Linked DNA regions of Homo sapiens: region 2 is linked to region 1. Evidence: fine-mapped expression QTL. Tissue or cell type: whole blood. Region 1 holds a variant in brackets; the other region holds the start of a gene. All regions are shown on one strand. Distances are from middle to middle.

Region 1 (2,500 bases):
AGTACTGAGATCATCGTCTGTTATTCTTAGCAAGGTTTTTCAAGGATTTGGATGCCCTCCTAGAAGACAGATTATATATCTGCAATAATATTTGCAGAGTGCCCATGGACAATTCCTTTTTGTTCTTTCTCTCTTTTTTAAAAATTATGCTTACTTTTAAATGTTTGTATTAAATAAGAAAGAGGGAGAGGGAGAGACCCTGCCCATCAGATTCCTGTGATGTGATTGGATGTCTCCACCGGTGCACACTTTTTTTTTTTTTTTTCCAATTGTGGGCATCTGAGTCATCCTTCCTCAAACCCTGAGTGGATTTGGCCATTTCTGGCCCGAGGTCTTTGGATAATTGGAGCCTCACGTCTGCAGGCAGAGGACTAAGCTGTTTGGATAATATGTAGTGCATTTTATAGTGAATAAAAGGATGGTAAACTAAATTCTTTTTAGCTGGTCTTTGCTTTTTGGTGTCCTAACCTTTCTGTTTCTTGGGTGCAGCAGGATGGGACTTCCTGTTTTTGGGCTGCACATATGTTTATGCAGGTTTGCCTGAAAACTATCCTGCTACCTACTGGGTGTCCACCAACTGGGCATCACCCAGAGGGAGCACCTTTTCCTATGCTGCGCCAAGGCGGCAAATGGGCTGACAGTGGTCTTGCCTGTTTGCAACAGAGATAAAGCTGTTTAAACACATACCCTGTGTTTAGACCAGTATATGTGCTGGTCACATGACACTGGCTGTTTCTTTCACACCACACTACTGGCCTGTCTCCTGGTCTGTTGGTGGCAGACATTTGCTAGGTGGGCCAGGAGACAGGCCAGTTAGACAGTCTGAAGTCTCCCCAGATCTCAGAGATTGTAAGGCATTGTCATGGCTCAGCGCACATGACCCAAGCAGAGACATGGTATGAACTAGGGTGGAGGGACAGAGCCCTGGTGGTCACTGTAAACTTCTGTCTGTCAGAATCAGCCTCTGTGGCAGATGGAGTGTGCTGAGCATGGACCAGGGCAGGCTGGTCCCGGAAAGCTCCGGTGGGGGCTTTTATGTGGGTGTTGCTTTACCTTCCTGGAGCCTCAAGTTTTCCTGACATGGGAAAGTTGACACTCTCTTCTTAAGACAAGAAGGATCTTAAAATAATATGAGGTGCAGACATGTTAACAATTGCTCCAGCACATGCAGCTGGTGAAAGGTAGTGTCAGAATTCAAACTCAGGCTTCTCTCGTTTTTAAACCCTTGCTTTTAACTTCTTGCTATATTGATTCTGTAAGATGAAGAAGGTTACTAAAGGTAGCTAAAAAATAAAAAAAATATTGCTTTAAAAATATTTCTATAACTTAGACTAGTTTAGGCAGTTCCCATCTGGTCATTGCTAATTGGGGAGCTTATCTTGGAGGTGTGATTACTACCCTGCCCTTCCTGCTCCTGCCAATGGGAGGTGGTGGGGGAGTGGGGCATGGAAGGTTGTCTGAAATCTTCAAAGACAGTGGGATAGAAGCTGCTTTGCC[A/G]TAACAGCCAGGTGGACAATACCTCCATGTCCATGGGCAGTTCTTGTCCAAATTGCACTGTCTTGGCAGCTTCTATCACTGCAGCTTGATCCCGATAGGTGGGAATTACGCTGTATTTGAAACTCAGCTCATCTATAGGCAAATTGTATTTTCGAGCATGATTTTGAAGAGTTCCTGTAATTGTGAAAATCGGAAAGCTGCGTTCAAACAACACTGCTACTCCCCAGGCACTATTCCCCTTCATCCAAACCAGGCTGCCCTGGCATTAGAGAGCCTTCCCACCACAGAGAAGACCCAACTCTTAATACCTTCCTCTGAGTTAGTTCACAGGGTCAGGAAGCCTGCGGGTCATGTTGGGAGGTAAGGGCCCAAGGGATGGACAAGCTCTGGTCCTGGCTGGGAAGGGAGGGAAGGCCAGTGTTCAGTGCATTGCCCTGTCATGAGGGAGACAAACCAGTGAGGCAGTTTCAGAGCCCAATCTCGCTAACTTTAGGATTTTGCCCAGCTTGTTTTATATGGGCTGTTTAATAGGTATTAAGAATGAGAGAGATGAAGGGCTTGGGTAATTAGCATTGAGTTGCTCACAGGCTCTAGCCCCCTCTGAGGCTCTCTAGCCAGATTCCCCAAGAGCTGATGGAGGCACATCAAGAGAATTTCTCAGAGGGAAGGGAGCTGCTCACAGCTGGGGCCTGAGCAGGTGGACAGCAGTTGATGCCCTTGAGCGTGGGTCATATGGGGAACTGAGGCACATTCTGTGTTTGTGGAGGCAGCAGTGCCTGCACTTATGTAACCTGAGAGGGGCAGGGATTAGGTTGTTGGGGAACATCTGCTATCTCTGCCATCTTTCCTCTGCCCCCCACAAGTGAGGAAGAGCACGACCTTGTTAGATTGCCCTATGATCAATAGCCTCATTGCTAGAGCATTAGCAGCCATGTCATTTCCCCAGCACCTCAAAACCCTGTGTATGAGAAGTCATGGCCATTCCTATGGGGTTTTTCTAGAA
Region 2 (2,670 bases), 300 kb after region 1:
AAAGGCTCTAGTTTTATAGGCTGCTGTCGTTTTCTTGTCTTCTCCTGAGCTTTTGTAATGTGCCTAAACGTTAGGATTTGTGTATCAGATTCATTTTCTGTGGATGTCACATAACTCACTCTTTGTTTGGCTTTTATATTATTCAGTCTTGAAAGTGCAGAATTTTCGGCATACTCTTCAATATTTGTCAGGTCAAATTCACTATCTGTGGCCCGAAAAGTCATCCTTACTCCTGAAAAGAATAGGTGAGGAAAAAGAAAATGAAAAGTAGATCAAAAGGATTGGGGAAGGAGGCTACTGGAGAGGGACTTAAGGACTAGGAAGAGTTGAATTCGCTCACTTCCCTCAAATAAAACCCATCAAAGTTACCCCAGTCTTCCCGAACTGAGGACTTGAACCAAAGGAATAAAAAATTAGAAACTGTGCCTAGGCTTCAAGAACCCCTGTAGCTAGGGTGGAACCCAGGAATTTGCATTTCTTGCAAGTTCTTGGCGGATGCTGCTGCTGCTGCTCATCTGGAGACCACACTGGTCTAGATTTGGAAGGACAAAAGGAAATGTAATTAGTATTGAGATCAATGTTTCTCATCTCCTGCGGAACTTGTTCAAAATGCAGCTAATTCTAGTACACGCAGTCTGAAAAATACAGTATAGGTACTCAAGAAGAAACAAAGGGAAAAAAAAGAATTGAGGGCTAATTTCTTACACAGTGCTTCTGGAGCTTTAACGTGCAGGACAATCACTTGCAGAGCTTGTTAAAATGAAGGTTCTGATTCATACACTTTGAGTAGCAAGGTCCTAAAACACTAGAAATATGAGCCTTTTGTAATGGTCTTGCACTCTGCACCACCACGCACACTTTCACCCCATTAGATGAGTGGAGATACTTCGAAACACCTTCCAAAATAGGGTTAGCACAAGAGGTCTTGAATCAGGTGTCGGCAGACCTAGGTTTTATATAGATCAGTGCTGGCCAATAGAAATATGAGAGCTTTGTATGCAATTTTAATTTTCAAGCAATAGCATTTTTAAAAAAGAAATAGGTGAGATTAATTTTAATAATATGTTTTATTTACCATATACAAAACATAATCATTTGAACACACAGTATAAAAATTATAGTGATATCTTATGTTGTCTTTTGGTACCACGCCTTCAAAATCCAGTGTGCTTTTTACATATGAGCACATTGCAATTCAGACTAGCCACACGAGGTCTAAAGATTACCGTATTTAACAGCGCAGGTCCAGATTTGACCACTCAGCGTGAGATCTTGGACAAGTCTTTTGATATCGCTATTGCTCACTTTCCACCCCTCTAAAATGATGGGCGGATAGCAGACAATCACTGAAATGCCTTTCCATTGATTTTCTCTGCCTCTTTGAGCCTTTATGTTCTCCGAAAGTCAGACTTTGTTTCTGGCCCAGAAATCGGAGCCCAGGCCCGAGGGTCGGTTCCCAGGACTCACCAAGTCAAAATACAGCAACCACCGCCGAGGGTCTCCAGAGAGAGCAATGCCTGGTCGGGAGTAGAAAGTACTCGGTAGCGCGGAATGTTTCCTGTTGCTGCGTAGCAACCAGCTGGCCTCTACGGAAGCACTGCGCCACTGAGTAACACGTCGCCAGGCAACGCCTCAACCAGCCACAGCTTTCGGTCCAGGAGCGCGCCAGGCAATCGAGCCAATTAGTGTCTCCGAAACATTTCCTACTTCGCTGATTGTTGGAGAAGCCGCACAGCCTGGTTCCTCCTCTGCGCTGGGAATTGAGTACTGTGCCAGGAGGTGTAGGCAGAGCAGCCAAAGGAGGTGGTTAATTCTGTTTGCTTCGTTGCTTATCGACCACTCACACCCATCTCAACCTCTTACAGGAATTTCTTTTCTGTTTTCCTTCAAGAGGCGTAAGACTGACTTGACGTTCACTTTAATAGAAATTTATCCGAAAGAGTCGAGAATTTCAGGAGAGGAATGTGGGTTGTGTAGACAAATGAGGTCCCACTCTCCAAGGAAGCAACCACTCTGCATCCCTGCCCTACCCGCCAACCTCCTCCCGAGTGTCTTAAGGCTCAAGAAATGTGGCCTCCTCTTCCCTTAAACTCCACTGTGGCCTTCCAACTAATGTCCTTTTCCACTTGGAAGGTAACCTAGGTGTCAGGCATAGGATGAGCCCGTATTACTTGGTTCCCGTGCCCCTTCTACCAAAGCAGACCCTGGATCTTATTCTGGCGTTTAATCTCACTTAAGTTCCCAAGTGACTGTTGCTAATTTTGTATGGAGCGACCCCATCGAAGGCCAGGGCCTGTTGCTTACTCGGGATGCCTTATCCCAGTTACTGATCAGGGGAAGAAATCCTTTCACCTGTCTTGATGAATCCTTACACCACATGGAGGAGCTCTGGTTTTCAACCTTGTCTCCAAAATGACATAATCATCATTTTCTTTTGCTCTTTTCGGTTGCTCTTTGTTACCTTGATATTTGTTTCTTGCTCTATGTGAAGTTCTTTACATTATTGTACTCACAGCCTGCATCTTCTCAATCTTAACATATTCAGTTATGTATTTGATATGGTAGTATGATTCTCTAAATCACAGATAGAGCTAAAATGGAGATTACAGGTCACATAGTCCAACTCCCCTATTTGATTTGTAAGGGAACTGAAGCCCAGAGAAAGCAAGT

What was found. PIP is the estimated chance that this variant, and not a neighbour inherited with it, causes the effect.
Region 2: DNAH6 starts here. The variant in region 1 is fine-mapped to the expression of DNAH6 in whole blood (TOPMed, PIP 0.92).

The regions. Positions count from the first base shown.
Region 1 is chr2:84,813,142-84,815,641 of GRCh38, reverse strand. It overlaps DNAH6 (dynein axonemal heavy chain 6), which reads right to left. Exons shown (of 77, transcript NM_001370.2): 75 at 1,520-1,671. Among named protein-coding and RNA genes, the nearest start is that of TRABD2A, 67 kb to the left of the region's middle. The variant A/G (reference allele first, on the strand shown) is at 1,498.
Region 2 is chr2:84,515,381-84,518,050 of GRCh38, reverse strand. It overlaps DNAH6 (dynein axonemal heavy chain 6), which reads right to left and starts at 1,553. Exons shown (of 77, transcript NM_001370.2): 1 at 1,468-1,553; 2 at 1-232. The coding sequence starts at 224.